Linked DNA regions of Homo sapiens. The protein of the gene in region 1 interacts with the protein of each later gene in a pairwise test. Each region holds a gene or a part of one and is shown in the gene's direction. Other genes may lie near its edges.

Region 1 (7,047 bases):
TGATGGTGACAATCAGTGTGACACTGCTCACATGACTGAACAACCGAGAAGAGCCCGACTGTCTACTGAACAACGGGAAGAGCCCGACTGTCAATGACGGAGCTCTGTTAAATATAGTTAAGGCTATTTTGTTGAATGAATGAAGCCAGACAGGAAAGAGGACAGTATCTTTAATCCATTTATAGAAGTTAAAGACAGGCTTATTTAATCTCTATGAAGACAGAGTGGCCCTTACCTCTGGGTGGAGCAAAAGGCACCTTCTGAAGTGATAGGGATGTTCCTTATCATCTTGATCCGGAGTGGTAGTTACATGCATGTGTGCATATCAAAACTCACCAAGCTGTACCACTAAGTGTGTTCTTCCTCAATAAAAATAATAAAGAACTACACTTATAAAGAATTTTTTAATAATATAGGAAAATGTCTACACTATAATCTTTAGCTAAAAAAAAAAAAAAAAGAAGCCGCCTACAGAATGGTATATGCATGAGAACAATTAATCGAAAAGTGCATGGGAAAAGTCAGGATTGAAACATCATGTTTTAAAAGACATTGTTTTGATACTGTGAGAATGTACCTAAGTTTTTCCTTTTTTCTGTTTTTCCCAATTTTATACAATGAGCATGTGTTGGTTTTATAATTAGACATTTTGTTTGTTTGGTTTGGTTTTGAGACACAGCTTGCTGTCACCCAGGTTGGAGTGCAATGGCCCAATCTTGGTTCACTGCAACCTCCATCTCCTGGGTTCAAGAGATTCTCCCACTTCAGCCTCCTGAGTAGCTGGGACTATAGGGGCGCACCACCACATCCAGCTAATTTTGTGTATTTTTAGTAGAGATGGGGTTTCACCATGCTGGCCAGGTTGGTCTCAAACTCCTGACCTCAAGTTATCCACTCGCCTTGGCTTCCCAAAGTGCTGGGATTATAGGCATGAGCCACCGCACTTGGCCTAGACATTTGTTTTTAAAAATAAAAGATTCATTTGCTCTTTTTACAGCCCGTCTCACTGTTGACTGATATTGACCAGGAGTCAACTCAGGCCCCAGGGATTTTCACAACAGCTGCTGTATGGCAGGGTTTCTGCTCACTGTGCTCATGTAGTTGGCCCTTGCACCCAAAGTGAATAATTAACATTCTCCCCATCCTGTTGACGATGCTCTGAAAATATGGTCCAGAAATGGTGTGAGCAAGGAGACAGCAAAGCAATGCTTGGAACATAGGTGCAGTGACTAGACATGGGGCAGCTGTTTAAAGACAAAAAGGCCCCAAAAAGGAGGGATGGCACGAAACACCCTCCAATATGGGCATGGAGTCTAGAGTGACAAAGTGATCAAAAGTTCATTTCCTATGGGGTGTCCGAATGTACTTAATAATAAAAAGAGAACAAGAGCCATGCAAACTGAGAGGGACAAAGTAGAAAGAGTAGCAGACACCAAGCAACTAAGTCACAGCATGATAAGCTGCTAGCTTGTTGTCATTATTGTATCCAGAACAACATTTCATTTAAATGCTGAAGAATTTCCCATGGGTCCCCACTTTCTTGTGAATCCTTGGGCTGAACCCCCCTGTCCTGAGTGGTTACTAGAACACACCTCTGGACCAGAAACACAAAAGTGGAGTAACGCACACTGCAAAGCTGTGCTTCCTTGTTTCAGCCTGTGAATCCTCACCTTGTTTCCCATCTAGCCTATATTTTTCAAACTAACTTGGCCATAGAATCATGTAGTATTTAGGGTGGAAGCTGCCCCAGGTCTAGCACGTCATTTAACAGATGAGGAAATGGAAGCTTGGGCAGTGGAAGTATCTTGCCGAGGTCACACAGCAAGTCAGCAGCACAGCGTGTGTGACTCCGAGCCTGCTCCGCTAGCCCACATTGCCCTCTGGGGGTGAGTATGTCTTCACATCCTCCAATACCCTAATGACAGACAAACAGAACATGGCAAAGCCTCAGCTCTGCATGGTGAAAGTAAGAACCAGCAATTGCCACAAACAGAAATACAGTGTTGGTCCGGCAGCCTCCGGGGGTTCTGCACAAGTGGATTACCAGTGAATACAAGGCTATCTATCTTTCGAAAAACCAAAGTTGTATTTATGCTATCTATTTTCTATAAAATTTTATATTAATTTATTTGTTACCTATTTTTGAACTCTTTCAAAAGCACACTTTATATTTCCCTGCTTAAACAGTCCCCCGAGGGTGGGTGCCCAAAAGGCTCTACACTTGTTATCATTCCCTCTCCACCACAGGCATATTGAGTAAGTTTGTATTTGGGTTTTTTTAAAACCTCCACTCTACAGTTAAGAAAACTAAGGCACAGAGCTTCAATAATTTGGTCAGAGCCAAGTAGCAGTAATGAAGCTGGAGGTTAAACCCAGCAGCATGACTGCAGTTCTTAATCAATGCCTTTTGAATTGCACATATGGGATGAACTAGAACATTTTCTCGATGATTCGCTGTCCTTGTTATGATTATGTTACTGAGCTCTGTTGTAGCACAGACATATGTCCCTATATGGGGCGGGGGTGGGGGTGTCTTGATCGCTGGGCTATTTCTATACTGTTCTGGCTTTTCCCAAGCAGTCATTTCTTTCTATTCTCCAAGCACCAGCAATTAGCTTTACCTTTTCAGCTTCTAGTTTGCTGAAACTAATCTGCTATAGACAGAGACTCCGGTGAACCAATTTTATTAGGATTTGATCAAATAAACTCTCTCTGACAAAGGACTGCTGAAAGAGTAACTAAGAGTTTGATGTTTACTGAGTGCATAGTATGTGCTAGATGCTGGCCGTGGATGCCTCATAGAATCCTCCCAACAACTCATGAAATGACTACTGTCATTCAGCCCAATACCCAGACGAGAAAGCTGAGGGTAAGACAGGTTTCAAGCTTGGCAGTCTGACTACAGAGGCCACTGGCTTAGCCCCTGGGTTAGTCTGCCTCTGTAGGATTGGGGGCACGTAATTTTGCTGTTTGGGGTCTCATTTGCCTTCTTAGAGATCACAAGCCAAAGCTTTTTATTCTAGAGCCAAGGTCACGGAAGCCCAGAGGGCATCTTGTGGCTCGGGAGTAGCTCTCTGCTGTCTTCTCAGCTCTGCTGACAATACTTGAGATTTTCAGATGTCACCAACCGCCAAGAGAGCTTGATATGACTGTATATAGTATAGTCATAAAGAACCTGAACTTGACCATATACTTATGTCATGTGGAAAATTTCTCATAGCTTCAGATAGATTATATCTGGAGTGAAGAATCCTGCCACCTATGTATCTGGCATAGTGTGAGTCCTCATAAATGCTTACTGGTTTGAAGGGCAACAAAATAGTGAACAGAGTGAAAATCCCCACTAAGATCCTGGGTCCAGAAAAAGATGGGAAACCTGTTTAGCTCACCCGTGAGCCCATAGTTAAAACTCTTTAGACAACAGGTTGTTTCCGTTTACAGAGAACAATAATATTGGGTGGTGAGCATCTGTGTGGGGGTTGGGGTGGGATAGGGGATACGGGGAGAGTGGAGAAAAAGGGGACACAGGGTTAATGTGAAGTCCAGGATCCCCCTCTACATTTAAAGTTGGTTTAAGTTGGCTTTAATTAATAGCAACTCTTAAGATAATCAGAATTTTCTTAACCTTTTAGCCTTACTGTTGAAAAGCCCTGTGATCTTGTACAAATCATTTGCTTCTTGGATAGTAATTTCTTTTACTAAAATGTGGGCTTTTGACTAGATGAATGTAAATGTTCTTCTAGCTCTGATATCCTTTATTCTTTATATTTTCTAACAGATTCTGTGTAGTGGGATGAGCAGAGAACAAAAACAAAATAATCCAGTGAGAAAAGCCCGTAAATAAACCTTCAGACCAGAGATCTATTCTCTAGCTTATTTTAAGCTCAACTTAAAAAGAAGAACTGTTCTCTGATTCTTTTCGCCTTCAATACACTTAATGATTTAACTCCACCCTCCTTCAAAAGAAACAGCATTTCCTACTTTTATACTGTCTATATGATTGATTTGCACAGCTCATCTGGCCAGAAGAGCTGAGACATCCGTTCCCCTACAAGAAACTCTCCCCGGTAAGTAACCTCTCAGCTGCTTGGCCTGTTAGTTAGCTTCTGAGATGAGTAAAAGACTTTACAGGAAACCCATAGAAGACATTTGGCAAACACCAAGTGCTCATACAATTATCTTAAAATATAATCTTTAAGATAAGGAAAGGGTCACAGTTTGGAATGAGTTTCAGACGGTTATAACATCAAAGATACAAAACATGATTGTGAGTGAAAGACTTTAAAGGGAGCAATAGTATTTTAATAACTAACAATCCTTACCTCTCAAAAGAAAGATTTGCAGAGAGATGAGTCTTAGCTGAAATCTTGAAATCTTATCTTCTGCTAAGGAGAACTAAACCCTCTCCAGTGAGATGCCTTCTGAATATGTGCCCACAAGAAGTTGTGTCTAAGTCTGGTTCTCTTTTTTCTTTTTCCTCCAGACAAGAGGGAAGCCTAAAAATGGTCAAAATTAATATTAAATTACAAACGCCAAATAAAATTTTCCTCTAATATATCAGTTTCATGGCACAGTTAGTATATAATTCTTTATGGTTCAAAATTAAAAATGAGCTTTTCTAGGGGCTTCTCTCAGCTGCCTAGTCTAAGGTGCAGGGAGTTTGAGACTCACAGGGTTTAATAAGAGAAAATTCTCAGCTAGAGCAGCTGAACTTAAATAGACTAGGCAAGACAGCTGGTTATAAGACTAAACTACCCAGAATGCATGACATTCATCTGTGGTGGCAGACGAAACATTTTTTATTATATTATTTCTTGGGTATGTATGACAACTCTTAATTGTGGCAACTCAGAAACTACAAACACAAACTTCACAGAAAATGTGAGGATTTTACAATTGGCTGTTGTCATCTATGACCTTCCCTGGGACTTGGGCACCCGGCCATTTCACTCTGACTACATCATGTCACCAAACATCTGATGGTCTTGCCTTTTAATTCTCTTTTCGAGGACTGAGAGGGAGGGTAGCATGGTAGTTAAGAGTGCAGGCTTCCCGCATTCAAAATCGGTTGCTTACTAGCTGTGTGGCTTTGAGCAAGTTACTCACCCTCTCTGTGCTTCAAGGTCCTTGTCTGCAAAATGTGAAAAATATTTCCTGCCTCATAAGGTTGCCCTAAGGATTAAATGAATGAATGGGTATGATGCTTAGAACAGTGATTGGCATCCAGTATGTGCCCTCGAGGCCTCTTAATTATTACTGGCTTGCTCATAGTGCATGTTCTTTGTGGGCTAACTCTAGCGTCAATAAAAATGTTAAGACTGAGTTGCAGCCGGGCATGGTGGCTCATGCCTGTAATCCCAGCATTCTAGGAGGCTGAGGCAGGAGGATCGCTTGAGCCCAGGAGTTCGAGACCAGCCTGGGCAACATAGTGTGATCTTGTATCTATAAAAATAAACAAAATTAGCTTGGTGTGGTGGCGCCTGTAGTCCCCAGCCACTTGGAGGGGTGAGGTGAGAGGATTGCTTGAGCCCGGGATGGTCCAGGCTGCAGTGAGCCATGATCGTGCCACTGCACTCCAGCCTGGGCGACAGAGTGAGACCCTGTCTCACAACAACAACAACAACAACAAAAAGGCTGAGCTGCACCATGCTTGACCCAGTTTCTTAAAATTGTTGTCAAAGCTTCATTCACTCCATGGTGCTATAGAGCACAAGATTTTATTTGGTGAGATGGTGCTTTCATGAATTCCCCCAACAGAGCCAAGCTCTCCATCTAGTGGACAGGGAAGCTAGCAGCAAACCTTCCCTTCACTACAAAACTTCATTGCTTGGCCAAAAAGAGAGTTAATTCAATGTAGACATCTATGTAGGCAATTAAAAACCTATTGATGTATAAAACAGTTTGCATTCATGGAGGGCAACTAAATACATTCTAGGACTTTATAAAAGATCACTTTTTATTTATGCACAGGGTGGAACAAGATGGATTATCAAGTGTCAAGTCCAATCTATGACATCAATTATTATACATCGGAGCCCTGCCAAAAAATCAATGTGAAGCAAATCGCAGCCCGCCTCCTGCCTCCGCTCTACTCACTGGTGTTCATCTTTGGTTTTGTGGGCAACATGCTGGTCATCCTCATCCTGATAAACTGCAAAAGGCTGAAGAGCATGACTGACATCTACCTGCTCAACCTGGCCATCTCTGACCTGTTTTTCCTTCTTACTGTCCCCTTCTGGGCTCACTATGCTGCCGCCCAGTGGGACTTTGGAAATACAATGTGTCAACTCTTGACAGGGCTCTATTTTATAGGCTTCTTCTCTGGAATCTTCTTCATCATCCTCCTGACAATCGATAGGTACCTGGCTGTCGTCCATGCTGTGTTTGCTTTAAAAGCCAGGACGGTCACCTTTGGGGTGGTGACAAGTGTGATCACTTGGGTGGTGGCTGTGTTTGCGTCTCTCCCAGGAATCATCTTTACCAGATCTCAAAAAGAAGGTCTTCATTACACCTGCAGCTCTCATTTTCCATACAGTCAGTATCAATTCTGGAAGAATTTCCAGACATTAAAGATAGTCATCTTGGGGCTGGTCCTGCCGCTGCTTGTCATGGTCATCTGCTACTCGGGAATCCTAAAAACTCTGCTTCGGTGTCGAAATGAGAAGAAGAGGCACAGGGCTGTGAGGCTTATCTTCACCATCATGATTGTTTATTTTCTCTTCTGGGCTCCCTACAACATTGTCCTTCTCCTGAACACCTTCCAGGAATTCTTTGGCCTGAATAATTGCAGTAGCTCTAACAGGTTGGACCAAGCTATGCAGGTGACAGAGACTCTTGGGATGACGCACTGCTGCATCAACCCCATCATCTATGCCTTTGTCGGGGAGAAGTTCAGAAACTACCTCTTAGTCTTCTTCCAAAAGCACATTGCCAAACGCTTCTGCAAATGCTGTTCTATTTTCCAGCAAGAGGCTCCCGAGCGAGCAAGCTCAGTTTACACCCGATCCACTGGGGAGCAGGAAATATCTGTGGGCTTGTGACACGGAC
Region 2 (6,836 bases), on another chromosome or scaffold:
AACTGCATCTCCATCTCATTGCTTCCTGCGCTTTCTTCCTTTCTGTCTGTTTAACCTCATTTTCTTTCTCCTTTGATCTCATTGCCTTTCTTTCCTCTCCCCCTTTTCTACCTTCTCTCTTATATCCATGCCTTCTCTCTACCCTCTTCTCACATTCCTTCCTCTCAGACTTCCTGCTCTGCTATTAATTCTAGCCAGCGGCCTGACTCCATAGGCTGGTCATACATAAGCCAGATCTCAATTGCTTTGCTCATGAAGCTGACATAGCAGATCCCCCGTCACCAAGTTGCGTGCACACGCATGCATACACACACACACGCATGCGTGCAAGCACACACACACACACACACACACACACACACACACACTTCTCTTTCTTGCTTTGTATTATAGATGAGATTCTACTTAGGGGTAGGATTCATTATTCATGAAGGGTGTGGTCAGGTGAGGCATGTTGGAAGCAAAATGCGAATTAGGTAAGGTGGAGTAGAAGAGAGCTATTGGCAAGAGAAAAATTACTTGAGCAGTGTGTGAGTGGGTGGGTGAGAAAGTGGGCAGGGTGGACTCAGAGGTTGGGAAGCTGCTCCTGAGAGGAGAAGCCTCTGTCTCTACACAGGAACCTACCTGACACATGAGGCAAAAGGCTCCGACGATGCTCCAGACGCGGACACGGCCATCATCAATGCAGAAGGCGGGCAGTCAGGAGGGGACGACAAGAAGGAATATTTCATCTAGAGGCGCCTGCCCACTTCCTGCGCCCCCCAGGGGCCCTGTGGGGACTGCTGGGGCCGTCACCAACCCGGACTTGTACAGAGCAACCGCAGGGCCGCCCCTCCCGCTTGCTCCCCAGCCCACCCACCCCCCTGTACAGAATGTCTGCTTTGGGTGCGGTTTTGTACTCGGTTTGGAATGGGGAGGGAGGAGGGCGGGGGGAGGGGAGGGTTGCCCTCAGCCCTTTCCGTGGCTTCTCTGCATTTGGGTTATTATTATTTTTGTAACAATCCCAAATCAAATCTGTCTCCAGGCTGGAGAGGCAGGAGCCCTGGGGTGAGAAAAGCAAAAAACAAACAAAAAACAAAACCCTGGAGTGTTAGGAGGAGAGTGAAGGTAGAGGGGTGAGGAAGGGTAAGGGGCAGGGCTGGTTTCAGCTGGGGGCTCTCACCAGCCCTCCTTTCAGCCTCTACAACAGAGCAGCTTCCCAGACTTCTCCAGGAACCCAGAAACGGGATGGTTGTCGGCAAAGGTTGGGAGTGGCTTTTCCTCTGGTAGCCACACACCTGAGCACTACGGACAGGGAGGCAGGTGCCACCTTGACACCTCTCTTCCATAGCAATGGGAAAGTGATGAGTGCGGGAGTCCTGAGGAGATGTGGCCTGCAGACAACATGCAGCCATGCAGGGACCCAGGACTGTAACCTGGGGAGGACGCGGGTCCCTGCAAGGAAGAGTAGATTTGGAGAGGAAGGATGGAGGTGGACTCTCACCCCATTCCCCCCGGAAATGAACAAAGCCGGGCCCTTTCCATAGGAACTGCCCTTGGAGATAGCAGAGTGTGGCTGCCCCTCCTTGCTCCAGCAGCAGTGGGAGAGGCACTGCTCTGGGGCCTGAACTGCCTCTGCTTCCCCCCCTGAGGGGCCCCTCACTCTTACCCAAGACTCTGGATTGTTGCACGGCAACCACTCCTCCCATGGCATTGCTCAGCAACTACTTCTCCCTTCCCGGCCACCCTGTGCCCCCTTCCTGGTCCCAACGCCAGCCCTTCATCCTTCCTCCCTCAGCAGCCAGGCAGACATAACAACAAAACTACTAAAAGGAGCTTCACTGCAGTGAGCTGTTTCCTGCCCAAACTAAGGGAATAATGTGAACTGTGTGCATGTGTGTGGTGTGTATGCATGTGTGCATGTGTGTGTGTGTGTGTGCATGTGTGTGAGTGAGTGAGAGGCAGAGCGAGGAACTGAGGAGGAGGGCTAAGAGCCAGGGGTCCTGGGCAAGTGGACAGGGCTGTGGGACATGTTGGGGAGGCTTTGGGAATGGGGTATTCCTAGTCAGGGTTCACACCTCACCTGGGATGTTGTTCCATGCTGGTATTTCCTCTGCCACCCCCAATGCCCATCGGTCTTGGAGAAAGGAGTCCCCGGGTGTGTGTTTGCCCAGCTGTCCATTCTATCTCTCCCTTAAACACAGAGCATTCAGCCCTTCCCTGGATTTCCCTCCTCTGAGCCATGGAGTCAGTGCCACAGCCTTTGCTATGCACCTCTCAGGCCTCTCCTTGGCGTTGACCCTGGAAAGACCTACCACCACCTATTTTTTCCCATAGTCTGTACCCAGTGAGTTGAAGGCTGGGTCCCCACCCTTCCTTTTGATTTCCTGTCTTCCTTCTCGTGGCCCCAGCTGGTTGCTGTGGAGATGAGGTTCCTGGTCCTCCCTGTCCTGGCTGGACTGCCCCGCCTCAGATCCAGGATGCCCTTGGCATCGCTCCCACCCTCCCCCAGCTTTTCCTCCCTGGTCTGACAATGGGCATGCAAAAAGGGGCAGCTGCAATCTAGCAGGCCTGCCCACCCCCTTCAGTTCAGGTAATACAGTTGTGAATCTTCCAGCCGCTGGTTAGGGCCTTGGGCACCACAGGCAGCCCCTCACCTAAGCCGGGGCCTACTCCTCTTACAACAGCAAGAGAGCCCTGGGGCCCCAGGCCTGTTGAGCTTCTTGTCTCCCAGCACCCGCTTTTGGGAAAATGACTTTTCCTCTTCAAGCTGAACCACTCTGTCCATATTACACAGAAGCCATATTTGTACGGGGGGGTGGGAGGGAGAGGGGCTGTTGTGCTGTGTGTGTCTGTCCAGGGGTGGGGGGGTGGGGGAAGGGAGCAGGGAGGGGACCGTGTATCTTTATAATCTTTCTAACTCTCCTGTGCTAATCTCAGAGGGGTCACCCTCAATATATCTGGATTATCCGTGTCATTCAGCTGCCTCCTTTCTGGTCCTCTTGCTGCTGCTGGGATGTGTGTATGTGAGGGTCTTCTTCCCATACCCCTTGCACCTGGTGCCTGGTGCCTCAAAAGGTGGTGTGTCCCTTGCCAGGCCACTCTCAAGAATATCTATGTACAGCAACAATATAACTCTACAAGGGAGAGAAGTGTGTTCACTTCCTTTTGCTAAGCCCTTCCTTTCCAGAGAGTGTCTTGGGGGGCATCTGACTGCTTCCCCCCACCCTCTGCCAGGCATTGCTGGAGAATGTTAAGACGGCGATGGAGATGCCATCAACCCCACCCTGCAGAGCATCACCAGACACCACCAGACCAAATTCACTTTCCAGCCCCTTCATGTTGAACCTGAAACTTGAGCTAGTGTCTTGGGAGAAAAGGGGGAAATCTCTACGAGGTACCCATCCTTCTGCACCTTAGGTCTGAGGTGCTTGGCCCCCTAGGAAGCCCTACATGAATGGGACAGAAGGTCCTTAACAACACTGGAGATGAAGCAGCCGATGCTGTTTTGGACAAATGAAACAGCGTCCCCTAACCAGCCCTTTCTATCTCATTGTTCTGACTTGGACACGCCATGGCTCACCGCTCCCAAAGTCCCCACTATGTCTCCCTAGCTGAGGAAATAAAAGCAGAGAGGGGTGATGAAACAGTGACGATCCTGGGGAAACAGCTGAGGAGGGGAGGGAGGGGGAAGAAGCCACTAAAAAAGTGAAATGTGCTTGGGAGAATCGGCCTGCCTGCAGGGTAGATGCCCTTTCTCTCTGCTGGCCAGCTCTGCCCCTCAGTGAGAAACTTTACATATTGCTAAGATGCCTGGCCAATGAAACAGTTCCAGAGACTTTATGTCCCCCAGTAGAAATATGAATAGAAATCACCCTGTGGGCAATGGTCCCATTTTAAAATATGCTGTCCCATTGTCCCCTAGAGCCTACTTTAACTTGTCAGACCATGTATTCCACTTCATATGCAAGAGGCATGCACTGAGCCCATAGGTGGCTAGGCAAACACCCAATAGCTCCCTGAAATGGCTTCATTATGCAGCCTCGACAGCCACCCCAACCCTCCCACTCTCACACTGAAACACCCAGACCTAGAGATAGCTAGACACACCCAGACACCCGCCAAGCCCCTCACATACAGATATGTGCACAATGATACACAGCAAACGTACACAGAGTTCAGTACACACAAAGAGCTCACGCCCACGTGCACACACCCCTCAGTTGGGACAGAGTTGACCACCACCACCTTTCTCCCAAACACATGGCTTTTGAACTGCCTTTCCTTGGATCCAGTTCAAGGGGATGGAGGAGCAGTGAGAGTCAGCCGCCCTTCCACTCCAATTTCCCAGCACCTCCCTTATCTCTGCCTCACAAGTCACCCAGCCCCCCTCTCTTCCTTCCTTGTGCTTGAAGAATCTCTCCTTGCTGGAAAGCCCCCTGTTTTCTCAATCTCCCTTTCCACTTCGGTAAAATCTCTACTTGCTGGAAAGCCCCCTGTTTTCTCAATCTCCCTTTCCACTTCGGTAAAATGCCCACTTTCTGGTCCCCACCTTTTTCCTGAGTGTAGTCCCAACCAGCCAAATCCAACCTCAAAACAGGAAGACCCAAGGCCAGTGACCCCCATAGGCCTGAGGCTTGTGCAGGCAGTGGGCGTGGGGTAAGGCTTCCTGATGCCCCCTGTCCCTGCCCAGAACCTGATGGCCCTCATTAGTCCTTGGCTCTTATCTTGGAAGCACAGGCGCTGACAGCCGTCCCAGCCCTTCTGTCTGCGGGCCTGAACCAAACGGTGCCATGGGGAACTGTCTGCACAGGGTGAGTATGGGGCCAGGCCCCAGAGTCCCTTATCCCTATGCCCCTCATTTCCCCTGCTGTTTGCCCCTCAGTCTTTATATCTCTTCCTTTTCCTCCTCATCTTTTCTCCCTTCCTGCTTTTTTCCTCTTCCTTCAAAGTCTTTTTCCTTCTCTCCTTCCTATGCTAGCCTCCTAGCTCCCTCTTGTGTCCCTCCCTTTGCCTTTGAGTCAGTTCCATCCTGGTCTCTTGGTGCCTTTTCCTTCTGACCTTGCACTGCTCCTCCAGCCCCAGCTGCCCTGGCTTCCCCAGGACTGTTCCTGCTCCGGCTCTTCAGGCTCCCTGCTTTGTCCTTTTCCACTGTCCGCACTGCATCTGACTCCTGCAGAGACCTTGTTCTCCCACCCGACCTTCCTCTCTGTCCTCCCCTCCCACCTGCCCCTCAATTCCCAGGAGACTCTTCCGGTGTAACTCTGATGGCCTCCTCTGGGTATGTCCTCCAGGCGGAGCTCTCCCCCTCAACTGAGAACTCAAGTCAGCTGGACTTCGAAGATGTATGGAATTCTTCCTATGGTGTGAATGATTCCTTCCCAGATGGAGACTATGGTGCCAACCTGGAAGCAGCTGCCCCCTGCCACTCCTGTAACCTGCTGGATGACTCTGCACTGCCCTTCTTCATCCTCACCAGTGTCCTGGGTATCCTAGCTAGCAGCACTGTCCTCTTCATGCTTTTCAGACCTCTCTTCCGCTGGCAGCTCTGCCCTGGCTGGCCTGTCCTGGCACAGCTGGCTGTGGGCAGTGCCCTCTTCAGCATTGTGGTGCCCGTCTTGGCCCCAGGGCTAGGTAGCACTCGCAGCTCTGCCCTGTGTAGCCTGGGCTACTGTGTCTGGTATGGCTCAGCCTTTGCCCAGGCTTTGCTGCTAGGGTGCCATGCCTCCCTGGGCCACAGACTGGGTGCAGGCCAGGTCCCAGGCCTCACCCTGGGGCTCACTGTGGGAATTTGGGGAGTGGCTGCCCTACTGACACTGCCTGTCACCCTGGCCAGTGGTGCTTCTGGTGGACTCTGCACCCTGATATACAGCACGGAGCTGAAGGCTTTGCAGGCCACACACACTGTAGCCTGTCTTGCCATCTTTGTCTTGTTGCCATTGGGTTTGTTTGGAGCCAAGGGGCTGAAGAAGGCATTGGGTATGGGGCCAGGCCCCTGGATGAATATCCTGTGGGCCTGGTTTATTTTCTGGTGGCCTCATGGGGTGGTTCTAGGACTGGATTTCCTGGTGAGGTCCAAGCTGTTGCTGTTGTCAACATGTCTGGCCCAGCAGGCTCTGGACCTGCTGCTGAACCTGGCAGAAGCCCTGGCAATTTTGCACTGTGTGGCTACGCCCCTGCTCCTCGCCCTATTCTGCCACCAGGCCACCCGCACCCTCTTGCCCTCTCTGCCCCTCCCTGAAGGATGGTCTTCTCATCTGGACACCCTTGGAAGCAAATCCTAGTTCTCTTCCCACCTGTCAACCTGAATTAAAGTCTACACTGCCTTTGTGAAGCGGGTGGTTTCTTATTTTGTCTGGGGAGAAGAAGGAGAATGGAGAGAGAGACATTTTTATGTCAGACTTTCTTGCCAGTGTCTGCTTCTATAGCTGGCTTGGGAAGAAGGTGAATGATGAATAAATACCCTCAGGGTACACAGATGTTCTCTTGAGGTGTGGGGTCACGGCCATCTCAAGGGAGAAGAGAAGAGGAACCAGAGCATGAGGGGAGTCATTAAACCAAAAAAAACAGAAGGGATGGCTTAGCTGGAAAAAAAGCTGTTCTGGGAAGCAAATGGAATAGGAACTCAAACTGAGAGATAAACAGTGAAGAGTGATGACAAAGCCCAGAGCAATACCACCTCCCCCTGTCCAACCTGCCCAGCCTCTGTCTTCTGTCTCCTCTCTGGCTTTGTTTAGTGATTAGGACAGTGGTGGGGAAGGTGAAAGAAGCATCCCAGGGGATGTTACTCAGTTCAGGGAACATATCAAGGTAATTTAAAAAGCCACTTCCTGGGAGTCATCTCTCCCAGGTTCCTC
Region 3 (7,023 bases), on another chromosome or scaffold:
GAGATTTGGAAGTAACTTGTGCTTAGCACTCTCCCAGGCTGGAGTGTAGTGGCACCATCTCGGCTCACTGCAACCTCCGCCTCCTGGGTTCAAGTGATTCTCATGCCTTAGCCTCTCAAGTAGCTGGGATTACAGGCACCTGCCACCACGCCCAGCTAATTTATGTGTTTTTAGTAGAGACGGGGTTTCACCTTGTTGGCCAGCCTGGTCTCGAACTCCTGACCTCAGGTGATCCGCCTGCCTCATCCTCCCAACGTGCTGGGATTACAGGCGTGAGCCACCACGCCAGGCCAAAAGCACTACTATATGACATGTTACCTGTTGTAAAGTCTGGACTCCATAAACCACGGATTGCAACCATCTCATTCATTTGTTCACATATTTTTTGTGTCCATTGTGTGCTCAAAGCTTTTATAGCTGAGACCATGATTGGTGCCTCTTCTCCGTAGGGATTTCCAGCACACTTGAGCAAGGAAAGGTGGAAAGTGTTAAGTGTTAAGGGGAAGTGTTTAGAGAGGAAAGCAGTCTGACATGTAAGTTATATAAATATTGAGTGAATGAACTAGGTTAGAATTAGGAACTACATGGATCTCAGTCTGTTAAGATAACAATAGTAATTCATACAAATAAGTAGAGAAATGTACCTGTGACTAACTTTTAGTAAAAAGTAATAATTAGGCCCAGGCACAGTGGTTCATGCCTGTAATCCCAGCATTTTGGGAGGCCGAGGCGGGTGGATCACGAGGTCAGGAGTTCAAGACCAGCCTGGCCAATATGGTGAAACCCCATCTCTACTAAAAATACAAAAATTAGCCGGGCGTGGTGGCATGCACCTGTAGTCTTAGCTGCTGGGGAGGCTGAGGCAGGATAACTGCTTGAACCCAGGAGGCGGAGGTTACAGTGAGCTGAGATCGCACCCGCCTGAGCGACAGAGCGAGACTCTGTCTCAAAAAAAAAAAAAAAAAAGTAATAACTGTGTTTTATAGAGATTGTCTGAATTAGGGGGAAAACTCTTCCTACTTGCTCCACGAGTCAATACCTGTTAGGAGACTATTACAAACGTTAGGTGAAAGGTAATGAGGGCATTGAGAATGGAAAGAAGAGTGATAACCCCAAGTATTAACGTCATATGCATGTTATGGGAAGAGGATAAGGAAAAATGCACATTTTCTTGGAAATTGGCTGATAGTTTTGAGGCATGAACTTACCAAAGGAACTGGTAAGTCTATTCAGAATGGATCCAAGTTGATTCAGGATTGAGGCAGAAAAGTCATTTGCTCTCATTTCATCAATTTGGGAAGACTTTCTGGGAGTGAGGCAGAAGTGTTCTATATATAGGTTCCATTGCCTTGAGAAACTGTTAATGTACAAAAAAATGCTACAGATTGTTGTGGGCGAAGTAGAGAATAATGACAATGTGCGTATTCTGTAGCTATCTGAGCTAGTTGTCAAGGAACTTGAATTCAGTGTCTACATGGCTAGTTTTTATGAGTATAATTAATAATTTTTTTTTAAATTATAGGGGCGTGAATACTTTTTCTCCCGAAGGAAGATTATTTCAAGTGGAATATGCCATTGAGGCTATCAAGGTATAGTAGCAAGTAGCATAGGTCCTGAAATTTCATGGCTACCTAACATTTTGCTGGCAGAACACTTGGAGTAAATGTGGTTTAACCATTCCTTTAGAAAATGTTCTTATATCCCTTTAAGCAACCACTGTTAACCATTTTTATAACAGTTTCAATCCTATTCCTAATATCTATTTTAAAACTTTTTGAGCAGTTAACTGCTTCATAATTATCTAAATAGCTTTTTCTCAGTGGGGGTGGAGGGACATATTTGTGCTTTTGATCCTCTTAGCTATAAAGAGAGGTACAGAAGTCCAGAATTAGCACCTGTATTACTTTTTCTGTTTTGTTTTCTTTAGCAAATCATGTATCTGACCACCTTTGTATTCTTTCTTTTTCTTTCTTTTTTTTTTTTTTTGAGATGGAGTCTCTCTCAGTTGCCCAGGCTGGAGTTCAGTGGCGTGATCTCAGCTTACTGCAACCTCCGCCCCTCGGGTTCAAGTGATTTTCCTGCCTCAGCCTCCCAGTACCACCAGGCTGGTCTCGAACCCCTGACCTCAAATGATTCGCCCATCTCAGCCTCCCAAAGTGCTGGGATTACAGGCGTGAGCCACCACGCACAGCCCACCTTTGTGTTCTTGTTGGTAAAGTCACCTTAGGGACTAAATAAGAGATTTGTTTTAGTGGTTTTTTAGAGACAGGGTCTCACTCTGTCACCCATGCTGGAGTACAGTGACACCATCTTAGCTCACTGCAGCTTCTAACTCCTGGGCTCAAGCTTTCCTCCCACCTTAACCTCCCTAGCAGCTAGGGTACAGATGTGTGCACCATGCCTGGCTAATTTTTTTTTTTTTTTTTTTTTGGTAGAGATGTGGTCTTGCTATGTTGCCCAAGTTGGTCTCAAACTCCTGGGCTCAAGTGATCCTCCTGCCTCAGCCTCTCAAAGTGTTGGGATTTACAGGTGTGAGCCACCACACCTGGCGTGGACTGGATAATTCTTTGTTGTGGAGGGCCATCTTGTACATTTTAGCATGTTTATCAATTCCTGGGTACTACCCATTAGGTGCCAGTAGCACTCTTTCAGTTGTGACCATCAAAAATGTCTCCAGACTTTGCCAAATGTCTGGTGGGGACAAAAGGGCCCCCAATTGAGAATCACTCTTCTAGATAAAAAGTATATATGAATTCTGTCCTACTCTGTTCAGTTAGGGATTCAAGATCAGTATACTATACATAAAACAATTAGAGAACAACTAAGTGCTAAATTAAGTTTTCTGGCAATGGTTTCTGATTATATATTTGTTTGATTTTTAAGGTATACATGCATGTAGTTTCAGAGTTAGAAGGCAAAGTAGTTCTATAAACCTTGTAACAAAAATAGCAATTCTTGAGGCCTGCATCATCTAGGTTCAGCTTTTCAGAGGCAACACTTTAAATTGTTTCAGCTGGTAATGTTCTAGGACTGTACCTCCATATCTCTATAACACAGATGTATGGTTTTTTTTTATTAGGCATTATCCATGGACTTTTCATTATGAAAGATGAAGATTTCTGCCCTAACCCCACACCCCTACTCCCCACCACACACAATTGTCTTCTGAGGTGGGGATAGGGTGACCCTCTCCATATATATCATGAATATCATAATTTTGTAAGATCATTAGTCAATAGTTACATTAGTATAACTAAATGCTTTTCACAGCTGAGCCATTTTGCATTTTATAATTATTTTTCTGTTTCTGCACAACATTGTTTTTCTTGGAGTTAATAATTCTCTTTTTAAAAATATTTGCTTAATTTAGGATGATCAATAATGCATTCCAAAGTCTCTCCAGGTTACATGTATCCTCTCAAAACATTCAGGCAAATTAAGTGTCCTATTAAGGATTCCTTTTTTTTTTTTTTTTTGAGACAGAGTCTTGCTCTGTCACCCAGGCTAGAATGCAGTGGCGCATCTCAGGTCACTGCAGCCTCAACCTACCAGGCTCAAGTGATCCTCCCGCCTCAGCCCCCAAAGTAGCCGGGACTACAGCTATGCACAACCATGCGCGGCTTGTTTTTTTTTTTTTTTTTTTTTTTTTTGAGACGGAGTCTCACTCTCTCACCCAGGCTGGAGTGCAGTGGCGCTATCTCAGCCCACTGCAACCTCTGCCTCCCAGGTTCAAGCAATTCTCCTGCCTCAGCCTCCTGAATAGCTGGGATTACAGGCGCGTGCCACCACACCTAATTTTTGTATTTTTAGTAGAGATGGTGTTTCACCATATCGGTCAGGCTGGTCTCGAACTCCTGACCCTGTGATCCACCTGCCTCTGCCTCCCAGAGTGCTGGGATTACAGATGTGAGCCACCGCGCCTGGCCTAAGTTTTTGTATTTTTTGTAGAGACGGGGTTTCGCTGTGTTGCACAGGCTGGTCTCGAGCTCCTGAGCTCAAGTGATCCGCCCACCTAGGCCTCCCAAAGTGTTGGAATTACAGGTATGAGCCACAGTGCCCTATTAAGGATTCTTAATGAAATCTTGGAGCCTTCTAATCTGCTCCAGTCTGGACTGGTTGTTCTCTGGGCCTCCTGTGTACCTGTGGACTTCATTTTCTGTGAGATCATTCTAGGCATTCCCTTTAACTCCCTCTTGTGTAAGGCCCCATGTCATCTTTTTTGATTTATTTGCTCAATTTGGTAGAACCCATTTTCCAGTAGTATTGTAGAAACTATTTATTTATTTATTTATTTTGAGGTGGAGTTTTGCTCTTGTTGCCCAGGCTGGAGTGCAATGGCGTGATCTCGGCTCACTGCAACCTCCGCCTCCCGTGTTCAAGCGATTCTCCTGCCTCAGCCTCCTGAGTAGCTGGGATTACAGGCATGCGCCACCACGCTGGCTAATTTTGCATTTTTAGTAGAGACGGGGTTTGTCCATGTTGGTCAGGCTAGTCTTGAGCTCCTGACCTCAGGTGATCTGCCCGCCTCACCCTCCCAAATTGCTGGGATTATAGGCATGAGCCACCGTGTTTGGCCAGAAATAATTTTTAATTTTCAACTTCTTTTGTTTCTTTTCTTCTTATTAGCATCCCGTTCTTGTTTTATGGATGAAATGTCTTGTTTTTCTTCAACAATTTTCTAATTTTTCTTGAAAATTTTTTTCCTTGTGGACATTGTTGCTCATCCCTATAATCTCAGTACTTTGGGAGGCTGAGGGAGGAGAATCACTTGAGCCTAGGAGTTCAAGACTAGCCTGGGCAACATAGCCCGTGTCTAGAAAAAATTTAAAAAATTAGGCTGGGCAAGGCTCACACCTGTAATCCTAGCACTTTGGGACGCTGAGGCAGGAGGACTGCTTGAGTCTAGAAGTTCAAGACCAGCCTGAGCAACATAGTGAGACTTTGTCTTCACAAAAAATTTAAAAAATTAGTTGAGTGTAGTAGTGTACACCTGTAGTCTTAGCTATTTTGCAGGCTTAGGTGGGAAGATCTCGTGAGCCTGGGAGGTTGGGGCTCCATGAGACGTGATTGTGCCACTGCACTCCATCGTGGGCAACAGAGTGAGACCCTGTCTAAAATATTTTTTTTTCCTTTTGAACTGGTCAGATTGTTTAGAGCTATGTTTTTCAAACTGCAGGTCTAGACCTATTAGGAGATAATAAAATAAATTTAGTGGTCATGAGGAGCATTTCTTTTGAGACAGAATGTCACTCTGTCACCTAGACTGGAGTGCAGTGGTACGATCACAGCTCACTGCAGCCTCAACCTCCCAGGCTCAAGTGATCCTCCCACCTCAGCCCCCAGCTACAGGCACATGCCACCACACCCAGTTATTTTTTTTTATTTTTTGTGGAGGTAAAGTTTTGCCATGTTGCCCAGGCTGGTCTCAAACTCCTGGGCTCAAGTGATCTTCCTGCCTCAGCCTCCCAAAGTGTTGTGATTATAGGCATGAGCCACCACTCCTGGCCCACATTTCTTTTTTAAGTGAAACAGAGCAGTAGATATCAAAATGCCTTGCCCATAGTAGTGATGAGTGGTTTTTTTCCTGAAATTTTGTTTCTGTTATGTATTTATATTTATTTGTGGGTTTTAGTTATGAAATCAAATGTATTCCTTACTGTGGCTTTTGGTCAAAAAGTTTGAAAAACATTGCTCAGGAGAAAACTGCCTCTTCTCATTTCATTCCGGGAGGGTATTTCTGGCTGCTGGCTTCTGAGAGCTGAGTAGGGAAAGAAGGCTGAGGTTCTTAACATTTGGTTTGGAAATTTTTACATATTTATCCCGTTTTCAGTACATTATTCCTGCCTTAGACTGTGCTTGGTGTCCCCAATCCAAAGACGCTCTATTTTACGGTCTCCAGAGAATAAGCCTGGAGTCTTCCACGGGAGTGGGGGAGGTGCAGTCGTCTAGCTTTACAGCATAGGGGAGGGGATCCGGGAATCTGTTTCTTAAACATTGAACCACCTTGCAATTTTTAGCTCCTTGTTCATTTCCATTTCCAGAGGTCCTTGTTGCCACCATTTCCTTTTTTGAGGTCCTGTGATAAAAATCAGGTTGTTTCTTTACTTTCTTTACGGCTGGTTTAGGATTTGGATTACCCAGGTATCACTAACCTATCTTCTTTTTAGCTTCAAAGTTTTGTTGCTGTGTCTTCTCCCACTCTCTGTTATAGTGGATTTATGCCTTTTTAGAAGTCCTTTAATCTTACATCAATAGACTTAAGGAAGGCGTGGAACTAATGTTATGTCTTTAGTCTGCACCTTTAACTAGAAATATGAGCATTCATTTTTATTTATTTATTTTTTGAGATGGGGTCTCACTCTGTTGTCCAGGCTGGAATGCAATGGCGTGATCTTGGCTCACTACAACCTCTGCCTCCCGGGCTCAAGCAGTCCTACCGTTTCAGCCTTCCGCGTAGCTGGGAGTACAGGCATACGCCACCAAGCCTGGCTAATTATTGTATTTTTTATAGAAACAGGGTTTCACCATGTTGCCCAGGCTGGTCTTGAACTCCTGGACTCATGCAATCTGCCCACCTCAGCCTCCCAAAGTGCTGGGATTACAGGCATGAGCCACCATGCCCAACCTGAGTACTCATTTTTTTACATAAAATTTTTTGACAGTTCATCTCCTGTAGTTATGCAGGTATCCACTGATTAAGAAAATACATGACAAAAAGCTGGTGTACATTTAATAACACTTCTAAATAAAGTCACAACTCAACACATTTGAAAAATAATATATATGCGTGTGAAATGATCATTCAGTCTGCAGACATGTTAAGCAAGTTATACATAAAGATTCGTGGGATTCTTTGGAACTCTTTGCAGTGCTCACACTTGGCAGTGATTACTTTGTAGAAATAACTAAATATAATGGAATTCAAAGCAGAAAGCATAGTCATGGAAGGCTTTGATGAGTGGAATTTGGATTGGGGGAAGGAAGAATGTATTCCAGGGGAGACAGCATGAGCAGAGGGGTGCA

What was found.
Region 2: the proteins of CCR5 (region 1) and ACKR1 interact in binary tests that used the Homo sapiens proteins (3 or more experiments, as listed by UniProt).
Region 3: the proteins of CCR5 (region 1) and PSMA5 interact in a two-hybrid assay, tested with the Homo sapiens proteins (one study listed by BioGRID).

The regions. Positions count from the first base shown.
Region 1 is NC_000003.12:46,366,922-46,373,968, forward strand, and holds the start of CCR5 (C-C chemokine receptor type 5), read left to right. Parts: upstream 1-4,024; 5' UTR 4,025-4,067; intron 4,068-4,322; exon of another isoform or gene 4,323-4,496; intron 4,497-5,970; 5' UTR 5,971-5,981; coding exon 5,982-7,040; 3' UTR 7,041-7,047. UniProt on the Homo sapiens protein: Receptor for a number of inflammatory CC-chemokines including CCL3/MIP-1-alpha, CCL4/MIP-1-beta and RANTES and subsequently transduces a signal by increasing the intracellular calcium ion level.
Region 2 is NC_000001.11:159,200,188-159,207,023, forward strand, and holds ACKR1 (atypical chemokine receptor 1), read left to right. Parts: upstream 1-4,687; 5' UTR 4,688-4,772; coding exon 4,773-4,793; intron 4,794-5,223; exon of another isoform or gene 5,224-5,246; coding exon of another isoform or gene 5,247-5,273; coding exon 5,274-6,263; 3' UTR 6,264-6,313; downstream 6,314-6,836. Other genes in the region: CADM3 (cell adhesion molecule 3), read left to right, coding at 617-735. UniProt on the Homo sapiens protein: Atypical chemokine receptor that controls chemokine levels and localization via high-affinity chemokine binding that is uncoupled from classic ligand-driven signal transduction cascades, resulting instead in chemokine sequestration, degradation, or transcytosis.
Region 3 is NC_000001.11:109,416,426-109,423,448, reverse strand, and holds part of PSMA5 (proteasome subunit alpha type-5), read left to right. Parts: intron 1-1,522; coding exon 1,523-1,589; intron 1,590-7,023. UniProt on the Homo sapiens protein: Component of the 20S core proteasome complex involved in the proteolytic degradation of most intracellular proteins. This complex plays numerous essential roles within the cell by associating with different regulatory particles.